4 linked regions of the Homo sapiens genome follow. The protein of the gene in region 1 interacts with the protein of each later gene in a pairwise test. Each region holds a gene or a part of one and is shown in the gene's direction. Other genes may lie near its edges.

Region 1 (7,028 bases):
TATCTACGTCTTTGCATTTTGTCCTCTCCAAAGCTCATTGAGGAAATACACTTTTTGTCCACCATGAGTGGAGTCTTAGGCTCTGGAGATCACACAGTTTCTAAGGGCTCCACTCGAGTCTGGGTTTAGTGATCCCAGAGCCGGGTTCTCTGAGACACCCAGATAGACGGGCCTGCTGTAATTTCACAGGAGGAGGTAGGTGGGGCTTCAAGGCCCAGGGATGCTCCCAGCTAAGCGCATCTCTGTAACCCAGTTAATGTAAATGAATAGAAACTGTCTACCTGATTTCCTAACACTTTCCCAAGGAAGTGTGATTATTTCCTTTCAAAGGAAAAGGAAACTGGCAGGTGATTTTCTGGGGTCGGGGGGGCAATTTGATAGAATACGATGACTGTGGACTTCATCACATTAGAAAAGATGTAGGTTTAGTTTAACTAAAAACGGATTCCTTTCTTTGGTCATTTGCTTTGGCAACTTAAAAAAAAAAAAGAAAGAAAGAAAGAAAGAAACGTTTCCTTTCTTTCTTTCAATTGTTTATTACGGGAAGCCAGAATGTCAGCAGACTCCGTAAGTGAGGCAGTTTGGGAGGTGGGGGAGGGGAGTCCTGGGGAGAAGTATATGTGCTTATTTTCTTCAGAAAGAGTGTTCTTCATCTTCTGAATATATCTTCTCATTTAATCATATCCATTATTTTTCAAAACACACCACTTGTTTGGCTGACTTATTTTTGCTGTTTCATTTGCCGTCTACATTGGTAACATACAGAGTTCAATGGCAGGAGCCATGAATTAACTTGATTCACTTTTTGAAGGGTTGGAATTTTTCAGACTGCTTCAACACTTGTTCAATGATAGTATGAGCTATGACTAGGCATAATCTCTCATTTTCAAGGTATGTAGACAGTCTGTTTTCATGTTGTGATTTTGAATGATAATTTAAAAGAGGTTGGGCCAGGCGCAGTGGCTCACACCAGTAATCCCATCATTTTGGGAGGCTGAGGCGGGAGGATCACTTGAGGTCAGGAGTTTGAGACCAGCCTGGTCAACATGATGAAACCCCATTTCTACTAAAAATACAAAAATTAGCCAGGCATGGTGGCACACACCTGTAATCTCAGCTACTTTGGAGGCTGAGGCAGGAGAATCACTTGAATCTGAGCGGCTGAGGTTGCAGTGAGCTGAGATCATGTCAATACATGCCAGCCTGGGTGGCGGAGTGAGACACTGTCTCATAAATAAATAAATAAATAAGTAAAATAAGAATAAAAGAGGTTGGAAGGAACTGACTTCAGAATTCTTACTTTATCTGAGGAAACAGTTTGGTGAGGAACAGGTTGAGTTTGGAAATTTAAGAAGCAGGTTGAGGGAAGCTTTCCATCCAGAGGCAGAGCTTGGAATCAGCTCATACATGTCATTGCGGGAGTTTTTGGAATCTGTTCATTTCCAGTCCCTGATCACATGCAGTGGTCACCTAACTCACCGTGTCACCGTGTTTTCTAAGTTAATCACATTCAGTTTCTCTTTGTATCTAGTAGCAGTTCTTTTAAGAAGAATTTTAACGTTGCCCAAAATGAGATGTTTAGGGCGTAGGGCATGTTAAATATTCCATTGCACTGATTTGCCTTTCTGTGAGTGATGGAGAGGCTCCTCTGTGGTCTTTCTGCCGGACATAGGCTGTCGATTTTGAAGGTGACCAAGTAGCAGGAACCAGTTCGTTGGCCAGGTAAATTACCTACTGAATTTCACTTTGGTTTGTTTCTGTTGGTGACTTGCCTGGGTTATTGTGCACCTGTCTGTTTACCACCGTCCTCTCTCCTTTGGGAAGCTCTCCGGACACCCCGCCGGCCTTGCCCTCACCATCTGTTTTCTTTGTGTTTTGCACAGTGCCTTCTCCCAGTGCCTTGCTCGTAGACAACCCCACACCTTTCGGAAATGCAAAGGAAGTGATTGCGATCAAGGACTATTGCCCCACCAACTTCACCACACTGAAGTTCTCCAAGGGCGACCATCTCTACGTCTTGGACACATCTGGCGGTGAGTGGTGGTACGCACACAACACCACCGAAATGGGCTACATCCCCTCCTCCTATGTGCAGCCCTTGAACTACCGGAACTCAACACTGAGTGACAGCGGTATGATTGATAATCTTCCAGACAGCCCAGACGAGGTAGCCAAGGAGCTGGAGCTGCTCGGGGGATGGACAGATGACAAAAAAGTACCAGGCAGAATGTACAGTAATAACCCTTTCTGGAATGGGGTCCAGACCAATCCATTTCTGAATGGGAACGTGCCCGTCATGCCCAGCCTGGATGAGCTGAATCCCAAAAGTACTGTGGATTTGCTCCTTTTTGACGCAGGTACATCCTCCTTCACCGAATCCAGCTCAGCCACCACGAATAGCACTGGCAACATCTTCGATGAGCTTCCAGTCACAAACGGACTCCACGCAGAGCCGCCGGTCAGGCGGGACAACCCCTTCTTCAGAAGCAAGCGCTCCTACAGTCTCTCGGAACTCTCCGTCCTCCAAGCCAAGTCCGATGCTCCCACATCGTCGAGTTTCTTCACCGGCTTGAAATCACCTGCCCCCGAGCAATTTCAGAGCCGGGAGGATTTTCGAACTGCCTGGCTAAACCACAGGAAGCTGGCCCGGTCTTGCCACGACCTGGACTTGCTTGGCCAAAGCCCTGGTTGGGGCCAGACCCAAGCCGTGGAGACAAACATCGTGTGCAAGCTGGATAGCTCCGGGGGTGCTGTCCAGCTTCCTGACACCAGCATCAGCATCCACGTGCCCGAGGGCCACGTCGCCCCTGGGGAGACCCAGCAGATCTCCATGAAAGCCCTGCTGGACCCCCCGCTGGAGCTCAACAGTGACAGGTCCTGCAGCATCAGCCCTGTGCTGGAGGTCAAGCTGAGCAACCTGGAGGTGAAAACCTCTATCATCTTGGAGATGAAAGTGTCAGCCGAGATAAAAAATGACCTTTTTAGCAAAAGCACAGTGGGCCTCCAGTGCCTGAGGAGCGACTCGAAGGAAGGGCCATATGTCTCCGTCCCGCTCAACTGCAGCTGTGGGGACACGGTCCAGGCACAGCTGCACAACCTGGAGCCCTGTATGTACGTGGCTGTCGTGGCCCATGGCCCAAGCATCCTCTACCCTTCCACCGTGTGGGACTTCATCAATAAAAAAGTCACAGTGGGTCTCTACGGCCCTAAACACATCCACCCATCCTTCAAGACGGTAGTGACCATTTTTGGGCATGACTGTGCCCCAAAGACGCTCCTGGTCAGCGAGGTCACACGCCAGGCACCCAACCCTGCCCCGGTGGCCCTGCAGCTGTGGGGGAAGCACCAGTTCGTTTTGTCCAGGCCCCAGGATCTCAAGGTCTGTATGTTTTCCAATATGACGAATTACGAGGTCAAAGCCAGCGAGCAGGCCAAAGTGGTGCGAGGATTCCAGCTGAAGCTGGGCAAGGTGAGCCGCCTGATCTTCCCCATCACCTCCCAGAACCCCAACGAGCTCTCTGACTTCACGCTGCGGGTTCAGGTGAAGGACGACCAGGAGGCCATCCTCACCCAGTTTTGTGTCCAGACTCCTCAGCCACCCCCTAAAAGTGCCATCAAGCCTTCCGGGCAAAGGAGGTTTCTCAAGAAGAACGAAGTCGGGAAAATCATCCTGTCCCCGTTTGCCACCACTACAAAGTACCCGACTTTCCAGGACCGCCCGGTGTCCAGCCTCAAGTTTGGTAAGTTGCTCAAGACTGTGGTGCGGCAGAACAAGAACCACTACCTGCTGGAGTACAAGAAGGGCGACGGGATCGCCCTGCTCAGCGAGGAGCGGGTCAGGCTCCGGGGCCAGCTGTGGACCAAGGAGTGGTACATCGGCTACTACCAGGGCAGGGTGGGCCTCGTGCACACCAAGAACGTGCTGGTGGTCGGCAGGGCCCGGCCCAGCCTGTGCTCGGGCCCCGAGCTGAGCACCTCGGTGCTGCTGGAGCAGATCCTGCGGCCCTGCAAATTCCTCACGTACATCTATGCCTCCGTGAGGACCCTGCTCATGGAGAACATCAGCAGCTGGCGCTCCTTCGCTGACGCCCTGGGCTACGTGAACCTGCCGCTCACCTTTTTCTGCCGGGCAGAGCTGGATAGTGAGCCCGAGCGGGTGGCGTCCGTCCTAGAAAAGCTGAAGGAGGACTGTAACAACACTGAGAACAAAGAACGGAAGTCCTTCCAGAAGGAGCTTGTGATGGTGAGTGCTCAGCAGGTGCCTGGGCGTTCAGGGGTGCTGCTCAGCAAAGCCTTTCCGCCTTCCCAGTGCACATGGGCGTGGGCCGTGGTGTCGTAAGTCACCAGGACAGTGTCTGTGGCTGATGTCCCGCTGCCTGAGATAGGTGCGGCTCAGCACAGCCTTTCGCCTTCCCAATATGCGTGGGCGTGGGCCGTGGTGTTGTAAGTCACCAGGACAGTGTCTGTGGCTGATGTCCCGCTGCCTGAGATAGGTGCGGCTCAGCACAGCCTTTCGCCTTCCCAATATGCGTGGGCGTGGGCCGTGGTGTTGTAAGTCACCAGGACAGTGTCTGTGGCTGATGTCCCGCTGCCTGAGATAGGTGCGGCTCAGCACAGCCTTTCGCCTTCCCAATATGCGTGGGCGTGGGCCGTGGTGTTGTAAGTCACCAGGACAGTGTCTGTGGCTGATGTCCCGCTGCCTGAGATAGGTGCGGCTCAGCACAGCCTTTCGCCTTCCCAATATGCGTGGGCGTGGGCCGTGGTGTTGTAAGTCACCAGGACAGTGTCTGTGGCTGATGTCCCGCTGCCTGGGATATACGTGTGGGGCTTGAAGTGTGCTTGAAGTGGAGATGGGGTTTACGGGGGATCCTGGGGGGCCCCAGACAACCCAAGGACCCTGCAAAGAAGAGCATTCCAGTTACTTTTCCCACCGAATCTGTGAGCTCCAAGAGGGTCCCAGAATGGACCAGATGCGGGTGGGGGCAGAAGGCGGCCTGTGCTCTCGCCATTCAGTTTAGATCTCTTGGGAGCAGATGTGGTTCGTTAGATTCCCAACAGGGTCTCTGACTCCAGAGTCCCACGAACCGCTGCCCCAAAGCCTGTGTTCATTGTAATGTGAGTTTTTCTTGCCTTTGCTTCCTTGAAGCTTCTAACATCTCTGTATTGTTTCCACTTCCCCCTCTGTGTTGGTTTGAGTTGGGGCGAGGACAGCATTTGTTTTGCCAGCACAACCGTGAACTGGAATCCAAAGAAATAAAAGGGGGAAGTAAGCATCAGACTGTGGGTTACGCCCTGGCCCACGAGCCAACCGGGGAGCATTTGCTCAACGCTTTCTTAGCACTGCTCCCCGCAGGCAGCCCCACCGTCAGCAGAGCTGGGTCCTGGCGGTTACCTTGGCTAGGCTTAGCCATATCCGTGTCCTGGCATCCCCAGGGGTGTTTGTGGTGGAGAGTCCCTGTGGACTTCTCCCTGTGATAGAACGGAGTCCACCCCTATCCTCCGGAGAGGGGCGCATTGCTGGTGTTCATTCCTGTGGGAAAACCCTGTGACCTTGGCGTGTGCCGCTCTTCCTCGTTCCTCTGAGCCCGCAGGCTTTCTTGCATCCTAGCTTCTGAGAGGCGTGCTTCTTGGTGCCCGGCCTTTCTGCCACCTCCCCGGCTCCCCTGGATTGAGCCCTGTTTGTCTGGGAGAGCCCAGAGTGTCCTGTAGACACAGGTGTGCAGGCAAGGGTCACATGTGGCACATACCCGGCTCGGCTGCCCATGTTGAGCCAGGAGACAGAAGGGACGCAGCCCGGCAGGAGTGGGGCAGGAGTCGGGTGAGACCCTCTCTGGGTGGCCTGCAGTCGTGTGCAGTGCCAGAAGCATGGAGCCACGAGATTGCCCAGGGGAGGGAGATGGAACTGGAAGCGGCCGTCAGGGGGGCCACCTTGGCAACCAGGAAATCACTGCACTTGGGTGGGGAGGAAGCGAACAAACGCAGCAGGGAAGCCTCCGGGCCCCCATGTGGGGTCACCTGCAGGGAGGGGATGGCCTGCGTCCCTCCCATCAGCCATCACCCATGTGTGATTCAGAGCACACCTCCTGGCTCTCCAGAACCTGGTGCCGGGCCGTGGCCTGGTCTCCTCACGGGTGCACCCAGCACAGTGGCAGACAAAGCGCCTCCATCCCGTGAGAGCCTCTGTGCGGGCGGCCCCGAGACCACAGCCGTGGCTGTGCATGCTGTCGTGGAACCTGACAGCATTGCTGAGCCCAGGACACTCACCTCGACGTTGCACCAGAGGTGGAAAAATGACACAACCAGGAGTACCACACCAGCTGTGGAAAATAACCGCCGAGTAGGTGGCTTTTACACTCATTTTCCTGCTTTTTTATCTTTTTCCAAAAGACATAAATGATCAAACTCTCTCAATTCGATTGGTGAGCATCTCTGGGAGGGGATTTTTTGGTGGGCCTCCCTGTCCGCTCCAGGGAGGGGTGTGTCCTCTGTGCCCGAGTCCTTCCGCTACCCAGAAAGGAGGAAGTGAAACTTGCCCTTGGCCAGGTCGGCTCCCTGAGGCAAGGTTAGATTTTGTGGTGATAAAGTGAAACTGGTTTTGCAGTGTCCCCACCCGCCCCCCACACCTGTGTCAGTCATCATCTTGGCCAAACTTATAGAAACCACAGACGGATTTCTCCCAGGTCGTTTATTAGGAGACCCTGAAAACTGGCTGTTCTATTCCGCTTGTCATCACAGGGCTGCCACGATTTCTGCGGCCTCTGCCACCGCTTTACCTGCCCCTCCCAGAGAGTCACAGCCAGGCCACCCCCTGCCTCTCATTTTTAGCATAGCTTTCGGTGTCCTTGTTCTGATGCCTTGGGTTGGAAACAGTGTTTAAATGATGGGGAAAATGTGAGAGTTTGAGACAGTCAGTGTGCAGGGAGATGGGAAGGAAAAAGGAGTCAAATGAGACCTGGGTTGTTCCTCTCTCCACTGCCTTTAGAACGGGGTCAGCCTTTGCCCCTGCCCCACAAAGTCGTGTAAGATCT
Region 2 (7,028 bases), on another chromosome or scaffold:
TTTGCTTAAGATAGTCTTTTGCTTGCATCCAGTAACCCTAATCAATACAGTAGAGATCATTACAATCTAAGCATCTTTCTTATGGGTAGTACTAGGTAAATATGGCCATATTCTTATATTTTATTTTTTTCTGAATTCCTTTAGAATAGCCCTTCCCTCAGATACGTTATATCTTAAAATGAATTGTTATTTGTACCTGCTGTGTGTCTGGCACATAGTATGTACCATAAAAATTAGATTCACTCTATACTTACCTTTTAGTTTCCTCACTGAGATTCATCAAGTGCTCTGTTTAATCCATAGTGTAATAATAAGACATTTGGGAAATACCCGGTCTCATCAATAGCATATTGACAAATCTTTTCCAGAGAAAGAATGTTTTTATTTTGGTTCCTGTATTAATCCATTTTCACACTGCTATTAAGAATTGCCTGAGAGTGGGTGATTTATAAACAAAAGAGGTTGAATTGACTCACAGTTCCACATGGCTATAGAGGCCTCAGGAAACTTAACAATCATGGCGGAAAGTGAAGAGAAAGCTGATGGTTTTAAAGTGTGGCACTTGAAAACCATCAGTTCTCATGAAAGTGAACTCACTATCATGAGAACAACATGGGGGAACCGTCCCCATGATCCAGGGTCCGTCCCTTGACCCGTGGGGATATTTGGGTAGGAACACAGATCATATCAGTTCCTCATGTTAAAAGGACCAATTGTTTAGGTTCCAGGCTTCTCTTGTGCATGAAATACCCTGCTAACTGTATTTCCTCCCTTTGAAATTACTTAATCAGAATGCTAACTGTATTTCCTCCCTTTGAAATTACTTAATCAGAAGCTTCAAGAAGGAGGAAAGAGCCCAGCACAGTGGTGTGCACCTATAGTCCCATCTACTCAGGAGGCTGAGGCAGAAGGATCACTTGAGTCCAAGAGTTCAAGGTTATAGTGTGTGTTGATCACATCTGTGAATAGACACTGCACTCTAGCCTGGACAACATAGTGAGACCCTATCTCTTTTTTTTTTTTTTTTTTTTTAAGGGACTTTGGTAGATTTTCTGTTTTTGGGGTTTTTTTGTTGTTTTTGTTTTAAAGCACTGTCAAAAGGTGGCAGGCATACAGACTCTTCTGGTTTGGCTTGTGCCAGTTATATTGTTAAGATGTTCCACAAAAAAGTGCACACACTCAGCATGCGTCTACTTTGCTTTGCAGGATAACATTCTCTCAGCCTTTGTGTTTGATGAGTTTTTGGCCATCTATGTGAGTTTCTGAGTTGTTTGAATAAGCTAAGAAAAGACAGACTTATTTATTTAGGTTTCTTCACATTTTCCTATGTTAACCTGCTAACAGTATACTGCCCTAACCCTACAGACTTGGCTTGTACCCACAAATGTGCTCTCCTAGCATACTGTGTCTCCTTCATGACACAAACCATGAAGGGTTCTTATAAGGATTAAAGTACTTATTTCACAGAAAATAATAGCTTATTTATTGAGCCCTTATTTGCTAGTCACTGTATGGGCAGCTTTATGTATATTATGACATTAATCCATTAAACAGTAGTCCATAATACTATTAAAGCTTCATTTTTGAAATGAAGAAACTAAGGCTCAGAAAGATTCTGAAACTTGTCCGAGGCCACATAACTAGTAAGTACTAGAAGCTACAATTTGAATTTACACTGGTATGCACACCAGTGGGTATGTTATTTAGTTTCATTTCTGAGTAAGTAGAAATTAAGTGATACTGTAATTATCATTCCATTGCAAAAGATAGAAACATAGAAAGCAAAGGACATGCCAAGAAGACCTACATTTTTTGTTTTAAACATCAAGAATGCAATTGATAATTAGCCTGATGGTCATGTGTTTTTTTTCCTCTATCACTGTACAAGGTTTTGGTGAAACTGATGCAGTTCTCAAAAGTCAGACTGTTGCCTATTAAATAGACTTGTGCATAAGGAAAGCTCACCTTTTTGTTCACTTATAATAATATTGTGAGAAATTATGTAATTCTCTGATGTCTTTCAGAAAAGAAGAGAAGAGAGCACTAGACTAAAGGAGGAGGGAAATGAACAGTTTAAGAAAGGAGGTAAGACGACTTTCAGCACTGATAATCTGGTCATCTTGACTCCTCATCCTGTTGTAGAGTCTGTGAAGAAACCCCAAAGAACATCTGAAGAAACCCCAAAACCAGACTTCACAATACAGTGTTGCTTCCCAGTACCTTGGCATTTTGAGTTTTTAACCAGGCCAAATTATTCATCTGATGGTGACCAGTTACCATTTGTCTCTTGGCACATGCATAGTCTTTCTGTAATCCACTATCTGTTAGTCTAGAATCAGGGGTAAAACTCTTGAGCTCTTGCTTTGGAAAACACTAACCTGGAATATTAAAGGTTATGTGCTGCATTGCTGTGAAAGCAGAGTCGCCGCTCCTCACTTGCTGTGGGGCTGTGAAAGCAGCCTGACTGCTCTGGTATGGCCTAGGGCTGCCTGTCCTTTGGTTGCTCTTTCTTTCTTTCTTTCTTTTTTTAAATTCTCCAAACTGCTTCAGAAAGGTTGCTCTTTCATGTGCCATTTTCTTTGGATGCCTTAAGTAGGGAGATTCTTCATGTCCTTCTGCATTTTCTACATTTGCTTAGAAATAAGTTGGTGGGGTTCATTCTGATAATTTGGGGTAACTATTTGATCTTAGAGCAAAAGTCTTCTGTCACATCTTAAAGTGTATATGCTTCAGAAATCTAGGAGTGTTAACATTTTCCGCTAGTTATTTTCAGGTTTTTAATTTTTTTCTTATTGTTTTCCAAAAGTTACCCTATTACCTGATTTCAGATTTTAGGGTTTTTTTTTTTTTCCTATATCTTGGTTTAGTAATCATTAATACTGTTTTCTAATAGAATAAACACTTCTAATTTTGGAAGCATATTTTTTGTATGTTAATATTAAATATTTCAAACCTGAGAAAGGAGTACATAGGCAATTTTCTATTAGTATCCTGACCATAATTCTCTTTTTCACCATTTTCTCTTTTAAGGTCTTGATTTAAATATTGATTTTTACATTGTTCCTTTTAGCTCTATCAAATGTCTCTCTTCAAACATTTCACGGATGCTGTTTTAGCCAGGTTGACTGTATGAAAGCACAACAGATTTAATGAAAACAAATATGTATAATTTTTTTCTTTATCTCAGGCCATGGATCCCAGAGTTTAGTCTCTTTCCTCTGTCCAGTTCTGTAACCTCCTTTGAAAACTCCTTTCTGAATTGCCCAGCCAAATGAAAACTGAACATTGAGGGAATGCCAGGACTCCTGAGTATTGAGGGCTTGTCACTGACAGCATGTTCAGCTGTCAGTTCACCAAGCACAGCCTGTGAGATTGGCACAAGCAAGCACTGTTCCTTTAAAGAGAGAAGAAAAGAAGAAATGATTTTTACTGCGCCAGACTTAATAGACTGTTACCATCTTTTAACTCAAAACCTTCATCCTATGAATGGAAAACAGTGCTTCTGAGATCCTGTGGAATATAGTAGTATCAGGAATAAAATCAAAATGACCATTCATCCTTTCTCTTATCCTCAGATTATATAGAAGCTGAAAGTTCTTATAGTCGAGCCCTCGAAATGTGCCCATCCTGCTTCCAAAAGGAGAGGTCGATTCTATTTTCAAATAGAGCTGCAGCAAGGATGAAACAGGTATGTATCTGTGACCTTTTCTTTTTAAAAAGCACATGGACTTGCAGTCTTTTCATACCATAGTTTCTCTCCAGAAACTAGCATAGAGGTTGCTGCCTCCCTTTTCCTGCCCATATATTTCCCTGATGTAAAGGCCACAGGGAGAATAGAAAATCTTTTGAAAAACTTGAGTCAGATTACTGTTAACATTCCCCATTAAAGTAGCTGAGTGAATACTTTCATGGAAGGAGGGCTGGCAAATTTTTTGCTAAACTAGGTCAGGTTAATGAAGCAATGAGCCAAGCAGTGCATGTCCTAGAATAGCTCTAGATCCTTATTTTAGGCCTCTGGAATTCTAGATAAACATGCAAAGGCACAGGGAAACACTGGTAAAAACTCTGGGCTTTAAAGCATCTTTAAAGATGGTTATTCCCAGGATTCTGACTTTTCTGTTCAAAGTATGGACACTTGGAGAAATCTCCAACAGCTGGGATAAAAGGTACCCTTAAATGCAAAATAGGTGTCAAGGAACTTTGAAAACATTTTGTATTTCCAAAGGACTGAGAACCTAGTATAACAAGGTGAGTATGGAATAGGTGAGAGTACAAATATATTTGTTTTATACCATGACCTTATTAAAAGTTAGATTTGGGCCAGATGCAGTGGCTCACACCCGTAAACCCAGCACTATGGGTGGCCGAGGCGGGCACATCACCTGAGATCAGGAGTTCGAGACCAGCCTGGCCAACATGGTCAAACCCCATCTCTACTAAAAATACAAAAATTAGCCAGGCATGGTGGTGGGCACCTGTAATCCCATCTACTCAAGAAGCTGAGGCAGGAGAGTCGCTGAAGCCTGGAGGCAGAGGTTGCAGTGCACTGCACTCTGGCCTGGGCGACAAGAGCAAAACTCTGTCTCAAAAAAAAAGTTAGATTTGTTTCTGATTTGTCTGATTTTCCGATTTAGTCTTCATAATCCTTGGATTGAAATGAGAGTGGTTTTTTTTTTTTTTAAACCATACCACTTTTTAAACTATGGCTACTTACATCCAAAGTACAAAGGATAGGTTATTTAACATACCTTTAAGCAACCATGATGCTGGCTCAAGATTGGAAGTGGCAGTGTTTTCATTTGTTTGTTTAGATCAGATATCTCTTTGATACTGTCTGAAATTCTCAAATGCCTCTACCACAGTCACTTTAGGTGACAAGGTTTTTTTTGTTGTTGTTGTTTTTTTTAAAGGCCCCAGGGCAGGGTTGCGGGGGTGGGTGCTTGAATGCTTGGACATGCAGAAAGGTTACGGTTTTTTTTTTTTACCAGAACTTGTGTAAGATTCAATCTTCAAAGCAGAGTATTTTTGGAGTATTTCATGTGGCATGAGAGAAGAAATAATTTTATAGTATACAAACCAACATTTTGTATTAGAGAAAACAAAACAATTGGTTTAACTTTATTTAAAACAATATTCATTAATGTGTCCCACCAGCAATCAGAATTAACATCTAACAGTTTTTACACTTACCTGGAAAATTCTGATCTTTTAGATTTGCTTCTCCCTTTTGCCACATTTTTAGACTGGACATTGTCATTGTGAAATAGGATCAAGGATGTGCCTTCAGTATCAGAGGAAATGCACCATACCCAGTTGGCTCCTGGGATTTGGGATTCTTTGTTTCTACAGTTGCCCAAGTTATTGATATTTCTAGGTTTGGGCTCACATAAATAGTCTGGTTCTTGAGTTAGGAAAATGTATGGTCTTGTTAGTATTTTGTCTGTCACATCTGAGGAGAACTCAAAAGAGCGTTGCTCTATGATTGTTGCCTGTTCAAAGAATAGTTTTGTTGGTGAAGTTTTCTGTTCTTTTAAGTTGCGTTTCTTTTTTTTTTTTTTTTTTTTTGAGACGGAGTCTCACTCTGTCACCTAGGCTGGAGTGCAGTGGTGTGATCTCGGCTCACTGCAACCTCCGCCTCCCGTGTTCAAGCGATTCTCCTGCCTCAGCCTCCTGAGTAGCTGGGATTACAAGTGCGCGCCACCACGCCAGGCTAATTTTTGTATTTTTAGTAGAGACAGAGTTTCACCATGTTGGTCAAGCTGGTCTCAAACTCCTGACCTCGTGATCCGCCCACCTCAGCTTCCCAAAGTGCTGGGATTACAGGCGTGAGCCGCCGTCCCCGGCCTTAAGTTGCATTTTTAATACTTTATGAAGACTCTAAAATGAGAGACTTGATAACTTCTAGGATTAGTACCCTGACACAATTTAAGGAGCATATTATATTCTAAGTTTTTCAAGGAAATGATGGTTTAACTGCTTTAAGAGGTAAAGATGAAGAATTTCTGAAAGGCAGGTTTGCAAGCTCAGCATCCCTGACTCAGTGCCCCTGGCCACGCTTCACATTTCATATCTGGAGAGAGAAAAGGTAACCTGGAGCTAGGGCAGAGTTTCAGCTCTAGGTCTCGCTAGCTATACAAGAGCAGAGCCCTAAAAGAGTAGGTTCTCTTTTTTTTTTTTTTTTTAACTACTGTCCTTATATATTATATACATTGTTTTATATGTATAGTTAGATTTGTTTGTCCTTATATGCTGTGTACATTTGTTTTGTCACTATATATTATGTATACTGTTTTATATAGATAGATAGCTACCTATATATAAAAATTATGAAAGAATGGTAAAGTTGTGATTTTTTTTTTTTTCCCACACACTCCACTTTGGGGACTACCATTGTAAGCAGCAGACAACACCTGGGTCCTCTGAGGTATTAGTAGACTATGAGCCTCAAACAAAAGTTTCTGCAATAAAATTCCATAATTCCTTGATTTGAGGAGACAGTGGATAAGATGCACTACAGCTTAATAATCACTTCTAGGCACACAAAGAATACCATCACAACAGTTGTACACATAAATTGTAAAGATTTATTTCTATTTCAGAAACTGTGAAATTGTGTGTCTTTGACTTATAGAAATGTGATAAGTTGAAAAAATATTGACTTATATAAAGTTATACAGATTACTTACAGGACTTCTTAGAGTTTTTGATATTTGAATTGGTATGCTGAACATTGAAAGAGAAATAAAAAAAGGTCCCAGATGACCCTGAAACCTTTTTTGTTTTGTTTATTGTGGTAAAATACAGATAACATAAAGTTGGCCATTTTAAAGTACAGTCATGAGTCACTTAACAACGGGTATACATTCTGAGAAATGTGTTATTAGGTGATTTCATCATTGTGCAAACATCATAGAGTATACTTACACAAATCTGGATGGTATGGCCTACTACACACCTAAGCTATATGGTATAACCTATTGCTCCTGGGCTACAAACCTGTACAGCATGTTTCTGCACTGAATTACTAT
Region 3 (7,028 bases), on another chromosome or scaffold:
TACTGAGCAATATTAAACCATTTGACCCTAAGTAACTTTTTTTCTTGTGGGTACTGTCTAATAAGGGATATGTGAGTTTGTGATTCCTAGAAGATGCTTAAGCAAACATATGTTTGCTATTTATTTTAGTAAGCCTTTTAATTAGTTGAATTGATAATATTCAGGAAGATAGGGTTTTTGGGATTTTATAAGCTTTCTTTGAACTGGAATTTCTGTTGGATATAAAAGAAAATTAGTCATTTAAGATTTTTTTAAGTTAAATAAGTTTTAGAGCAAAATATTGTTTCCTACATGGAACTCTTACCAGGCTTGTCAGTCTGATAGCTTTATTCTCCAGAAAGTTGTGGTTTTTAGCCCTTTAGGCAGCCTAGCCTTTTATGGTTTAACCATTGAACTCTAGATTCTGGATTGAATTTAACCTCTTGAAGGAAAAGACGATCACAGGCACTAGAATTGGAAGTGATGTCAGAGGGCTTCTAATGTAGCATCTTACCCGGTACAGTAAATCCCTCCTGAGAATTTCCATGTCAGGTGTTCCCTCCCATTATTAAGGATGAGAATGCTATTGCATATGTCATCAGGTTATTCAGCAGTCCAAGCTTACTGAGAACAAACACAAGAGTTTTAATGAGTTTTAATTTTCACTATTCACTGCCTTTAACTGTATTTTGTAGGCTCTTTCCCACCCCCCTGTCCCCCACCCCCCATAACATCATGGGTAAATGATAGCTTTTCTGTCATTTACAGTTATCAAAAAGCTCTAGGCTGGGCTCAGTGGCTCATGCCTGTAATCCCAGCACTTCAGAAAGCCGAGGTGGGAGGATAGCTTGAGCCCAGGAGTTTGAGACCAGCCTGGGCAACATGACGAAACCTTGTCTCTACAGAAAATAGAAAAATCAGCCGGGCGTGGTGGCATGTGCCTGTAGTCCCAGCTAGTTGGGAGGCTGTTGTAGGAGGATCCCTTGAGCCTGGGAGGCAGAGGTTCCAGTGAACAGAGACTGTGCTGTGGCACTCCAGCCTGGGTGACAGGAGAGTGAGACCCTGTCTCCAAAAAAAAAAAAAAAACAGAAAAACAAAAACAAAAAATTGCAGTCTATTCCAGTTTGAACATTCAATCTCATATATATTCAATTTAAAGGTTTTTTTTCCCTTCCTTACCCTGTGGTCAGGCCACTTACTTACTGAAGCACTTGGGGTATGGACGGCTTGTGGTAAGCTCCTGGGATACTTCTTTCCTTTCCCTCTTAAGGGATCTATTTGGATACAAATGTGTCAAGAAGAGAAGTAGAAAAAGACAAGTGTTTGTTATCTGGTGCTATTAGAGTCCTCTCTTGATTAACAGTGGCAGGCCATTGCAGTCTACTAATAGGCAACCAAACTGGCATTTTTGGTGAGATCTTGCAGGGAGACTCCTGCTGCACAGTTTCTGGGTATGAAATTTTCTGTAGCTAAACCTTTTCCAACCTACACACCCATCTGCTTGCTCCCATCCTGTCAGTTTACCCACTGGTTACGTGAATGTGTGTGAGTCGGGGTGGAGATCTTTTCTCTCTGCAGCGAGATATTTTGATAATGGCAAAACAACTTCAATCCAGGTACGCTGTGGTTTCTATTCAACCCACTGGAAACTCACTTCCTTGTGATGTCGAATAGTGGCATACAGACTACTTAAGTCTGCCTTCTTTCTGTGCCCTGCCATTTCTCATCAATTCTCTTTGTCCCCCTTTTCAAGTAGACACATGGGGTCAGTCACTCAGTCTGCTGCATAAGCAGATGTGGAACTGGAGAATGGGATGCAAGTCTGTTCTAGGCTCCTCTGATCTTCATGAGTGATTTCTGTTAGAGGCCCCTGCCACTGTTTTGGTGAAGACCTCCTTCTTTTCCCTGCGTTCTCCCTGAAGACTTACAGTTCTTTCCCTCTCTTCTGTCAACTGCTCTTGCAGAGTGGAAGGATGGTGCTGATTAGGGTGCCAGAGCCATGCCTGACTCTACAGATATTTGATCCTCTATGTCTATATATCCTCAGCTTTGTGTTTGTCAGTGATTGTGGGGCAACAGGACTAGTCCCACTCGACATGTTTTAACAAATAATAGTGAAGTCTTGTGGGCCTGTTGAGGTCTCACTGTACAGAATTTAATTTTTCTTTGCTTTTTCTTATATCACTCAGGCTGTTTCTGTGTTTTGCCTTATTTTTTGGCTTCCTGGTTCCTGACTGATGAGGTGTTAACTGTAATTATGTTAATTTATGACTGATTTGTAAGATCTAACTATACCTTAGAGTATGAGTAAAGCTGAAGGAGAAATTTGGGTTGGGAGGCATGTTAATAATATAATTGTGTCTGGTTTTGCCTCATGTAAGTTTCACTAAAAATATAAATTTAAGTGGAAATACAGTATTTGAAACTTTTTCCTTCCATTATTTAAATAAATCAGTTAAATCTGGTAAATGATTCTTGTCTGATGAGGAAGAAACAACTTTCTATCTGGAAACTTAACGTTAATCTTTGATGCAGTAATTATGGGTTACTTCATCCGTCGTTCAACAAATAGTTACTGAGGGTCTTGCATGTGACAGCCACTGTGTTAGGCATTGGAGAAACAACAGTAAATAACAAATCCCTGCTGTCATGGAGCCTACATTACAGTGTGGGGAAACAGACAAGAATCAGGTAAATAAGTAAACTGTATCATTCATTAGATAATCAATAAATGCTAAGGAGAAGAATAACATGGGGAACCAAGGTGGAAGTAGCAAAACGGTTTGGAGGATTTGCAATTTTAGATAAGATCTAAAAGGCAGTGTTCACTGAGAACGTGACTTTGAGTTACAAGTCCCCGAGTGGGAATCTTGTCTGGTGAGTCCAGCGGCCAAATGAATGAGTAAGGTGGGTATTGGGATGGGGTAACAGGGCAGACGAGGCTTAGTGGTCTTTATGAGGGCTTTGGTTTTTAGGTTTTTACTTTGAGTGAGATGGGATCCCATTGAAACAGGTTGTCAACCTTGGCCGAACATTAGAATGATTGGGGAAGCTTTAAAAAAGTACTGATGCCTGGATCCCATCCCAGAATTTCTGATTTAATTGGTCGGCGGTGGTGGGGGAGGTGGTGTTTTAACGTAGGCATCAGGAATTTTTAAAATTCCCAGGTAATTCTGATAAGTGGCCAAGGTTGACATCTATTGCACTGAAGAGTTTTGAGCAGAGTGAGGTATTACATAGTATTGAGGAGTGTGACTCTAGAGCCAGACTCCTCCAGTTTGACTCCTGGCACTGCCACTCCCAAGCATGTGACCTTGAGCAAGTGCCTTATTAGTTTTCTCATCTGTAAAATTGTTATAAGGATTAAATAAACTAATATTTAGGTATTTAGAAAAGTGCTTTGTGAGTAGTAATATGTGTACGTGTTTATTGAGTGAACACTTGAATAAATGTTTTAATGGGATCACTTTGACTGCCATGTTGAGAATAGATTGAAGTGGGGTAAGGGCCAGATCCAGGAGAGGCCCTTGGCAATAATCCAGGTGGGAGGTCATGGTCACTTGGACCAGAGAGGTAGCAAGTGGTGAGAAGTAGGATTCTGGTTATAATTTGAAGATGGAGATAACAGGATTTGCTGATGGATTGGACATGGGGTAGGATATGGTTTGGATTTGTGTCCCCACCCAAATCTCATGTCGAATTGTAATCCCCAGTGTTGGAGGAGGCGCCTGTTGGGAGGCGGTTGGTTCATGGGACAGACATCCCTACTTTCTGTTCTCATGATAGTGAGTGAGTTCTCCTGAGATCTGGTTGTTTAAAAGTGTGTACCTCTCTCTTCTCTCTTTCTTCCTCCTGCTCCTGCGATGTAAGAGGTAACTCCTCCCTCTTTGCCTTCCACCATGATTGTAAGTTTCTTGAGGCGTCCCCAGTCATGCCTCCTGTACAGACTGTGGAACTGTGAGCTAATTAAACCTCTTTTCTTTGTAAATTACCCAGCCTCAGGTAGTTCTTTATAGCAATGCAAGAACGGACTACCACAGGGTGAGAAAAACTTAAGTATGACTTCAAGATACTTTTCCTGAACAACTGGAAGAAGGGAGTGGCCCTTTACTGAGCTAGGGAAGGCTGGATCAGGATTCTGAGGGGAATATCTGGAGCTCAGTTTGTTAAGTTTGAGATAGCTTGTTAGATAAGTGGAACCGTAGAATAGGCAGTTGTATACATGGGTCTGGAGGTCAACAGTGTTCAAGGCTGGAGATAACAGTCTGGAAGTCATCAATATTTAGGCCTGTGAGAATGAGTAACCTCACCAAGACACTGAGTATATATAGGAAAGAGATCCACAGACCACCCTCTGGGATACTCCAACAATAGAGGTCTGGGAGATGAAATATTCCTTAGGGTTTCTTATGTACTCTAGAATGAAAGACAATTGTAATCGTTTCTTTTTTTAGAAAAAGCTTTATTGAGATAATTCACACTATATAAATCACTTATTTAAAATGTATGATTTAGTGCATTCACAGTTACGTGGACAACACCACAATCAATTTTAGAATATTAGTATCATCCCCAAAGAAACCCTGTACCCTCCTATCCTTAGACAACAACTCATTTCCCCTGTACCTAGGCAACTAGTAATCTACCTTCTAGCTTTATAGATTTGCCCATTCTGCATATTTCATGTCAGTGGAATCATACTATACTTGGTTTGTTTAGAGAGAAGTGGTATCCATTAGTACCTAGCTTCTAGATTCAATAGATACCAAGTTACTTGGTAAAGGTGGGGGCTATAAGATCTCTCCAATGTAAAGATACATTTCCTGTTTGCAATTAGTAACAAAACTGTGGGGTGATATTTTGAGACTATGAATATTCTGTTTCCTAACAGCATTTCATCTAGTGGTTTTAGTGTTCATTGAAGATGCTTGTGTAAATCAGTGAGACATTGGGATTACAAAGTGGTGATTTTCTATTACTGTCATATCTTCAGAAATGATGTAGTTCATATTATTTCTAATTCAGATGTATTGTACACAGTTTGTTCTTTTGTTTTTTGTTTGTACCTCTTTTCTCTCACTGTGAAAGTCTTGGTTCCTAATAACAAATAAATGTTTTCTTTTATTTTAAATATAATCATATCAACATATTTACATTATCCAATAATGTACATTATAATGGTCTGGAAGTCTTGTTATACCTAAAATGTTTCACATTACAGTACCAAGTAGGAATGCTGGATCATAGGATAAAAGCATATATGATTTTGTTAAATAGTACCAGATTCACCCAGTAGGGTTTTACCATTTTGCCTTCTTGCCAGCAATGTAAGAGTTTCTGTTTTCTTACAGCCTCATCAGTATAGTGTGTTGTCAAACTTTTGAATTTTTGCCAGTCTAATAGATGAGAAATGGTATATCTGTATAGTATAGATTTAAAAAACTTTTCTATTATGGAGATTTGTGAACATCCACAAAAATAGAATAGTGTAACCAATCCCATGAACACCATCATTTAGCCCCAGCAACTACCAACCCTGCCACCAGTGCCTCCGTTTATTCCCTTCTCTAAAAATTATTTTGAAACAAATCCCAGATAACATTTTTTTCTTTTCTTTCTTGCTTTTTTCTTTTCTTTCTTTCTGTTTTTTTTTTTTCTTTTTTTTTTTTAGAATGGGTCTTGCTCTATTGCCCAGGCTGGAGTACAGTGGCACAATCATAGCTTACTGCAGACTCAATCTCCTGGGCTGAAGCGATTATCCCACCTCAGCTTCCCAAGTAGCTGGGACTACAGGCACACACCACCATGCCTGGCTAATTTTTTTTTTTTTTTTTGGCAGAGATAATGTCTTGTCATTTTGTAGGCTTGAATTGCTGAGCTCACACAATCCTCCTGCCTCAGCCTCCCAAAGTGCTGGGATTACAATTGTGAGCCATCATGCCTGGCCCCAGATAAATAACATTTATTTTATATCAGTAAATATCTCTAAATGAAAAGGACTCCTCCTTTTTTTGGTAACAATCACAATGCCGTTATCACACCAAAAATAATGTGTCTGTTTTCTTAATATCATCAGACAATATTCAAATTTCCGATTTTAAGTATGTCAGTGTTTTTTTGTTTGTTTTTGTTTTTATTTTTAAAGAAACAGGATTTAAATAAAATCCACATGTCGTGATTGGTCCAGATATCTAAAGTCTTTTTTAATTCATAGGTTTCTCCTCTAGTTCCTTTTCTTCTCCTGCTTTTGAATTTAATTTTAAAGAAACCAGTTATCTTTCCTGAGCCATTTCTTACTGTATAGATTTTGATATTTGAATCCCTGTGGTAGTCTCTCGTGTTGTTCTGTTCTTGGGATGTCATTGGCAATGGCTACATCTCGGTATGGTTTTTTTGTATTTGTCCTGTTATGAGTGATACTGAATATCTCATCATATATTTAAAGGCCATTTTTATATCTCTCTTGGTACAATGTTCATGTCTTTTACTCATTTTTCTATTGAACGTTTGATATATTTCCCTTAACATTTTTTGCAAGCTCTTTAAATGCTAGGGAGATTAGCCCTTTGTTTATGATATAAGTTGCAAATATTTTCTACTGGCTTTGACTTTGCTTATCAGGTTTTTGCCATGGAAAGCTTTTAAAAAACTTTATTTGGCTGGGCGCGGTGGCTCACGCCTGTAATCCCAGCACTTTGGGAGGCCGAGATGGGCGGATCACGTGGTCAGGAGATTGAGACCATCCTGGCTAACACGGTGAAACCCCGTCTCTACTAAAAATACAAAAAATTAGCCGGGTGAGGTGGTGGGCGCCTGTAGTCCCAGCTGCTCGGGAGGCTGAGGCAGGAGAATGGTGTGAACCCCAGGGGGCAGAGCCTGCAGTGCGCCGAGATCGTGCCACTGCACTCCAGCCTGGGTGACAGAGCGAGACTCTGTCTCAAAAAAAAAAAAAAAAAAATGACTTGTAGTCATTTATAAATGAGTTTTTAAAATTGTTACTGCTCCAGGTGTGGTGGCTCACACCTGTAATCCCAGCACTTTGGGAGGCC
Region 4 (7,028 bases), on another chromosome or scaffold:
AAGGCTAGCCTACTAGATCTTGCCTAATATTTTGCACTGAATGTAAGAAAAATGTATTACAGACCATTCTCGTCAGATATTCTTCACTGAACCTTCTTTATCTCTTGCATCTAGTGGGTCTAGGTTGTAGATTTTAACCTCCTACATATTGCTTGTCCATCCTTAATTACATTTTGCCTGGACTATTGCAGACGCTCCTAGCTAGTTTTGCTGCCGTTGAGCTTGGTTTTTCTCAGTTCATCTGCCTACTTTGGTTCAAGTGATCTTTCAAAAAGGAAAAGACATGCTTAAAGTGGCATGCCCACGCAGGACCAGTGTGTATTGGTTGCTTGTGTTCTGCACAGAGGCACTGAAATCTCAGCTGTGTTCTGTTAAGCCTCCTGGGGTTAGTTGGTCTTGAGGAAGGGGAGCTTTTTCTCATTTCCTTTATCTCTTTGATACTCCAACAGTGAGGCACATTTTTCTAACCTGCTAGGGGTATCCTTAATGTGTCAGTGGTAGCCCTGATCCTCATCACCTGTGAGGTAAAAGTGAACTCTCCTAGGCTTGCTTCTCCCTGCCTCTTTGTAAATTTCTGACTCTTCCGGCTACGGCTCTGGGCTTTAGTCGGATCCACCTGCAGTTTTCCAGTGCCCGGCAGGTGTCAGGCTTAGATGCCTTTGCTCTCGCTGCTCCCTCTGGTTAATGCATCACCCACTCTCACCCCATGTTGTCATTCTCATCTTTCTAGATTCAGCTTCAGGATTATCTTGAAGCCATCCTTTCAGTGCAACTTCTTTGCTTCCATAAGAACCTCTATGTACATAGTTTGGTATATCCCATGTGGCTTGAGTTTACATGTGTCTGTGCTTAAGAGGACTTTAAAGGACATGGCTCATTTCTATGTCTTAGCACAGAGCAGATGTTTTTGAATGATACATTGTATGATTGAAGTCACTAACTTTCTTTTATCTTTGTTTTAGGTTCTGACATGAATAAATTTTGCAGAAGTCGTGTTCCTGCGATAAGATACAAAGATGTGACCTTCCAGTTGTGTAAAGCTCTTAAAGGCTGTTTAAGTATATCAAGTGTGCTAAAGAACCTGGAGCTAAATGGACTAATTCTGAGAGAGAGGGATTTAACTATTCTAGCAAAGGTAAGCTTTGTCTCATTTGGCTTGTAGACATTTGATAGTTGCTTTTAGAGGAAAAAAAACCTCAATAACATTTTTAACTTTTCCCCCTCATTAAAGGGATTGAATAAATCGGCTTCTTTGGTGCACCTGTCTCTTGCAAATTGTCCAATTGGAGATGGAGGTTTAGAAAGTGAGTTTAAATCTCATTTAACTCTTGTCCTATCAGGCTGGTTTCATGTTTCCCTACATGCCATGTTAATTCCTGTCTGTACCTTTTTTCTTACTACTGCCTCATATGCTTGTTCAAACCTTGGTCCAGTCTCAAGTCTACCATGAAAGCTTGGCATGCTGAATGTAATCTGAACTAACTTTACTTAAGTTTGTGTTAAACCACAGACCACACAAATATATACCATCTGGTATTCTCTGTTTTTTGTGTTTGTTCATCTTTTAGAGTTTTTCTTCAAGAAATATTTATGGGAAGGAAATAGCAAAATGTAAAGAGGCCGGGCGTGGTGGCTCACGCCTGTGATCCCAGCAATTTGGGAGGCCGACGTGGGCGGATCATGAGGTCAGGAGATTGAGACTGTCCTGGCTAACATGGTGAAACCCCATCTCTACTAAAAAAATACAAAAAAACTCACCAGGCATGGTGGCGGGTGCCTATAGTCCCAGCCACTCAGGAGGCTGAGGCAGGAGAATGGTGTGAACCTGGGAGGCAGAGGTTGCAGTGAGCCAAGATCACACCACTGCACTCTAGCCTGGGCGATAGAGCAAGACTCCGTCTCAAAAAAAAAAAAATCATCATTACTTTAAATAATTAAAACATATATACAATCAATTTTAATGCACTGTGGTATGTTCCAAAATAGGAAATATAAGCAAAGTGCTGTATAGGAGCATATAAAAGGCTGACAGACTTGGGGGGAAAGGGTTGGGATCATGGAAATAGTCACAGAAGGTGACTGTTCGTTGGGATCCTGAAGTCTTGTGTTCGTTGTGTGAAATAGTGGTCTGGAGGGGTAAGGAAACCTGCATTTCAATTTGAGGGAGCAGAGAGTTAAAAGGCCTCTGTCTTCTATTGTTCTAGTACATTAGGTGCTCTAGTATAACACCTAATAAAATTCTGGGTTTATAGTTGACACTGAATTGTTGGTTAATAACAGATTGAGGTCTGCTCTTGGAAATGAAAATAGGAAGAGTTTTATTTTTTTTATGTTTTTCTTTCAGATGTCTCAAAAAGTATATAGAACTTTACTGTGGTCTGGAGTAAGGTTGCAATATTCAGTCTATTCAATTTTGGCATCTAAATAGAATTGAACTATTGCAATAAACTGGAGTAACTCTTTGTTACTGACTTATTTTAGAATGTACCAATCAGTTGCTTAGGTAGATTGTAAATAGTGATTTTAAGAATACAACTATAAAATAGAAAAGATATAAGAAGAGCAAATAAATCAAGACTGACTAGGTTGTATATGCTCTTCATCTTATTGTATGTGGTTTTTTTTTCCATTTTAGTTATTTGTCAAGGTATAAAGAGCTCTATCACTCTTAAGACAGTCAACTTCACAGGATGTAATCTGACATGGCAGGGAGCAGATCACATGGCCAAGATCTTAAAGGTAACTTTATGTTCCAACTTTCATGAAAATGTGTTATATGATTGCCACACGTTAATATTTTGATACAAGACAGCAGTTATTTTTGTCTTTTGATACATATGGGCATTGCAGTTTTAGTTTTGTTTAAAGAATGTGACCAATTTTCAGCCTGGGGTTCTACCATTTATTAAAGGTAGTATGCTTAATCTTAGAAATAGAAGACCTAAAATATAATAATTAGATTTTTCTGTAAATACAGTTTGTAAAACAGTAATTTTAAAGGTGCCTTAACAACTTTATAGTGGTTATTACTACTGTATTTAGGATAAAATTACATAATAATGTGACATGAAGCCTTTTTAGTAATTTGATGGTGTAGATCGGGGTAGTCAAACTATGGCCTGTGGACCAAATCTAGCCTATCACCTATTTTTGTAAATAAAGTTTTGAAACATAGTCATGCCCATTTGTTTACATATTAACTATTGCTACACCCTACACTAGGAGAGTTGAGTAGTTGCAAAAGAAACTATATGACCCACAAAGCTGAAAATGTTTATTTTGGGGCCTTTACAGCGTAAGCCCACTCTCCGTGGGATAGATAATGGTTACTCATGTGGATTCTGAAGCCAGATGGCCTAGGCTAAAACCCGAGCTCTCTCCCATTTAATAACTTGTGACCATGGGCAAATTAGTTAACCGCTCTGTTCCTCAGTTTTCTTATCCATAAAATGTGTATAATAAGAAAACCTACTGTGTCTGTCATTGTTAGGATTTAATGAACTAATGTGTATAAAATAGTGCCTGGCTATCTAAGTGTTTGCTGTTATTTCCTCTTATTGCTTTTATACAGTTATTATGAATAGCAAATGACACTGACAGTTTTCATTTGACGGAGTCATAGGAGCTTTGAATCTTTTGTTTCAGAATGTAATGAGATTTTTTTTTCTCTTAAAATCAGTGTTTCCTGTTACCGAAATTTACTTTATGGATAAAGAGAAGTGATTATGTCTGTAAGATAATACCTGTGGTTAAAACTCAAACCACCAATTTCCGAAGGCATATCAACCTTGCTTTGTATATTCTAGGCCTCTAAATTTGGTGTGCATACCCTAAGAAATATGTGAGATCCCTTGGGTTAGGAGAAGAAAATATTAACCTCTATATTTTTGTATCATTTAAAAAATACCTATTGTTTCTGTTTGATTTGTAATATACATAAAATATGTATATAGAAATTCCTGTATATAGTTTATTAATAAATAACTTACATGTTAAATGTTTACTTGTGGGATGTCCAGTCAAGTGTTTAGAGACCACTGGAGGACAGAATGATATGATTTAGAGGCTCAGCAATGATAGAATTTAGAACCAGTACCTTCACTTGGCATATAAAGAAAATAAAATTCTTAGAAGTTAACTAAGTTGTCAGTTTACATAAAGCAATCAGTAACAGGTCATTAGTGGTTAGGGTCACATAGCTAGTCAGTGACAGACTAGTATCTGGGTCACTGGACTCCTTACTCAAAATCTACTATTTAATCAGTCTGTCAGATTAACCCACCTGGCATATGTACCTGGTGTGTGTGTAAAGCTCTGATGTAATCAGCTGTACTTAGTTCCTTTTAGTGTTCCTATCTCTTTATCCAAGTGTATTAATTTCATCTTATTAAATCTTTGAAGTATCAGACCATGAGAAGGCATGAAGAAACCTGGGCTGAGAGTCTTCGCTATAGGAGACCTGATCTTGACTGTATGGCTGGCTTAAGACGTATCACACTGAATTGCAACACACTTATTGGTGACCTAGGTGCATGTGCTTTTGCAGACTCTCTCAGTGAGGATTTATGGCTGAGAGGTAAGTTAAATGAACTTGTAAGGTGGAAAATATTGAATTTTTTGATATTAAATATGCTTAACTCTTGGCACAGTAATGTTGTCCGAAGGTTTTTTAAAAAGCCTCTTTTTTCTAATAGGTTTTATTTTGTTTTTAAGCCTTTATAAAAGTTATATATATTCTTTATAGAAAATACCAAGTAACAAAAAAAAAAAAAGTACATATAATCTCAATGCCTAGAGATAAACTGTTCATTTTGGTGTATACACTTTCAGTATTGTTTTTTCCTGCAGATACATTTGTGTGCTTAGAGTTACAAGAACAGAACTATAGTGCACTTACCATTTTGTAACCCTGCTTTTTTTATTTAATGATGTATCATGTAGTACTCTATTATATTGAGGCATAATAGTTTAATTCCCTACTATTTGATATTTAGGCAGTTTGTGCTTTTCCCCTGTTATAAACAACTCTGTAGTAAACTCCTTATGTATACATCTCTGTGTCCATTGAAGTTACTTTTTTTTTTTTTTTTTTTTTTTGAGACAGGGTCTTTCTCTGTTGCCCAGGCTGGAGTGCAATGGTGTAATCATACCGCGCTGTAGCCTTAAACTCCTGGCTCAAGTATCCTCCCACTATACCCTCCGAGTAGCTGGCACTACAGGTGCACACCACCATGCCAGGCTAATTTTTGTGGAGACAGGGTCTTGCTGTGTTGCCCAGGCTAGTTTCAAACTCCTGGGCCCAAACAGTTCTCTTGCCTTGGCCTCCCAAAGTGCTGGGATTCCAGGCATGAGCCACTGTGCCCAGCCTGAAGTTACTCCTGTAGGATAAATTACTAAAGTTGAGTAACTCAGTATAATGTATTTCTTAAAGACTTTTGATGCATGTCACCAAATTGCCTTTCAGAAATGCTGTGCCATATTATAGTCTCATAAATGCTGGATTGTGTCTATTTTAAAACCTTAAACTTTACAAAAATGAGAACTCCCCTGCTTTTTCTTTTTTGATGCAAATGGGATTGGTCTCTGAATTTTACAGCTTTTTTCACTCAGTCTAGCATATCTTAAATCAGTAAGTTTACATTTACCATGTCATTTTTAGTGACTCTTCAGGGTTCCATTATGTTAATATGCAATAGTACACTTGGCTTATCCGTTCCTATTAGATATATAAGCTATTTCCAGTTTTTCATTGTTATAAACAGTACTTTGATACGTGTTGTTGCCCGTGTCTCTTATAATTTCCTTCTGGTAAATTCTTAGAAGGAGAGTTGCTGTGTTAACAGAGTCTGCACATTTTAAAGGTTTTTTTAAAATGTGACCTTCGCCAATCTGATAGAAGCATAATCACATTTAATTGTTTTAGTTTATATTCATTTGATTTACTAGTGAGATTTACTGGCTATTTTTATTAATTTGGCTAGGTGGATAATTACATCCTATGCTCATTCTTCTGCAGCAAGAGTTTGTAAAGGTTTTACCATATTCTATCAGATCCATATATCTGACTTATTTCTGTGTGTCTTGTGGTGTCTTAGTCAGTTAGGGCTTCATAGAATATTCTATATTATATATAGTATATATTATATAACTCCATTATAGAAGCATATAACAGAATTATATTCTGGGTGGCTTAAAGAGAAGACATTCATTTCTCACAGTTCTGGAGTCCGAGAAGCCCAAGATCCAGATGCCAGTAGATAGGTGTCAGGTGAGGGCATTCTCCCTAGCTTATGGAAGGCTTTTATATCCTTAAATGGTGGCGAGAGAGAACTCTAGTCTCTTTTTTTTCTTGTAAGGACACTAATCCCATGATGGCTCCACTCTCAAGACCTCAACTAAACCTAATTACCTCTCAAAGGCCCCAATTCCTAATACTACTACCCTGTTGTGGATTAGGGTTTCAATATACATTTTTGGGGAATACAGACATGTAGTCCATAAAATGAGATTCTGAAAGACTTCAGTTATTTTAATGTAATGGTATACACGTGCTTTTGCTCTGATGTAATCTTTTTTTATGCCTGTACTTTTGTGATAATCCTTTTGAGTTGAAATGAGTAGATTGTTCAGCCTCAGTATTACTAGTATTCATGAGCATTTGTTTAGTTCTTTGACCTTTTACTTGAGAGAGAGTTCTTGACCATTATTTTTTCATGATAGGTTTTTAGTATATAATCTCTATAATCTCTATTCACACATTCTTTGGATTCATTATTTCTATCTCCTTAGAGTTCTTTCTTTGTCATTTTTATTCTAAAACTAACAGTTTACATTTTTGTATTTTCTTTTCACTTTTTTAATGTAATTTTTTGAGAGTCACTTGGAATTTGAATTTGAATTTGATGATGAATCTAGTGCAATTTCTGAGCTCCACCCAGTTTTTGCCTGTGATGTTTACACTGCCACTAGCATCCTTGTTAATTATGAACAAATATTCATTCTGTGATGTTTTATGTAGAGTTATTTTT

The links.
Region 2: the proteins of SH3BP4 (region 1) and TTC1 interact in a two-hybrid assay, tested with the Homo sapiens proteins (one study listed by BioGRID and IntAct).
Region 3: the proteins of SH3BP4 (region 1) and PLEKHA1 interact in a two-hybrid assay, tested with the Homo sapiens proteins (one study listed by BioGRID and IntAct).
Region 4: the proteins of SH3BP4 (region 1) and CEP78 interact in a two-hybrid assay, tested with the Homo sapiens proteins (one study listed by BioGRID and IntAct).

The regions. Positions count from the first base shown.
Region 1 is NC_000002.12:235,039,005-235,046,032, forward strand, and holds part of SH3BP4 (SH3 domain-binding protein 4), read left to right. Parts: intron 1-1,883; coding exon 1,884-4,243; intron 4,244-7,028. UniProt on the Homo sapiens protein: May function in transferrin receptor internalization at the plasma membrane through a cargo-specific control of clathrin-mediated endocytosis.
Region 2 is NC_000005.10:160,033,116-160,040,143, forward strand, and holds part of TTC1 (tetratricopeptide repeat protein 1), read left to right. Parts: intron 1-2,024; coding exon 2,025-2,085; intron 2,086-3,575; coding exon 3,576-3,688; intron 3,689-7,028.
Region 3 is NC_000010.11:122,377,691-122,384,718, forward strand, and holds part of PLEKHA1 (pleckstrin homology domain-containing family A member 1), read left to right. Parts: intron 1-7,028. UniProt on the Homo sapiens protein: Binds specifically to phosphatidylinositol 3,4-diphosphate (PtdIns3,4P2), but not to other phosphoinositides. May recruit other proteins to the plasma membrane.
Region 4 is NC_000009.12:78,239,061-78,246,088, forward strand, and holds part of CEP78 (centrosomal protein of 78 kDa), read left to right. Parts: intron 1-962; coding exon 963-1,135; intron 1,136-1,231; coding exon 1,232-1,304; intron 1,305-2,635; coding exon 2,636-2,739; intron 2,740-4,401; coding exon 4,402-4,576; intron 4,577-7,028. UniProt on the Homo sapiens protein: Centriole wall protein that localizes to mature centrioles and regulates centriole and cilia biogenesis. Involved in centrosome duplication: required for efficient PLK4 centrosomal localization and PLK4-induced overduplication of centrioles.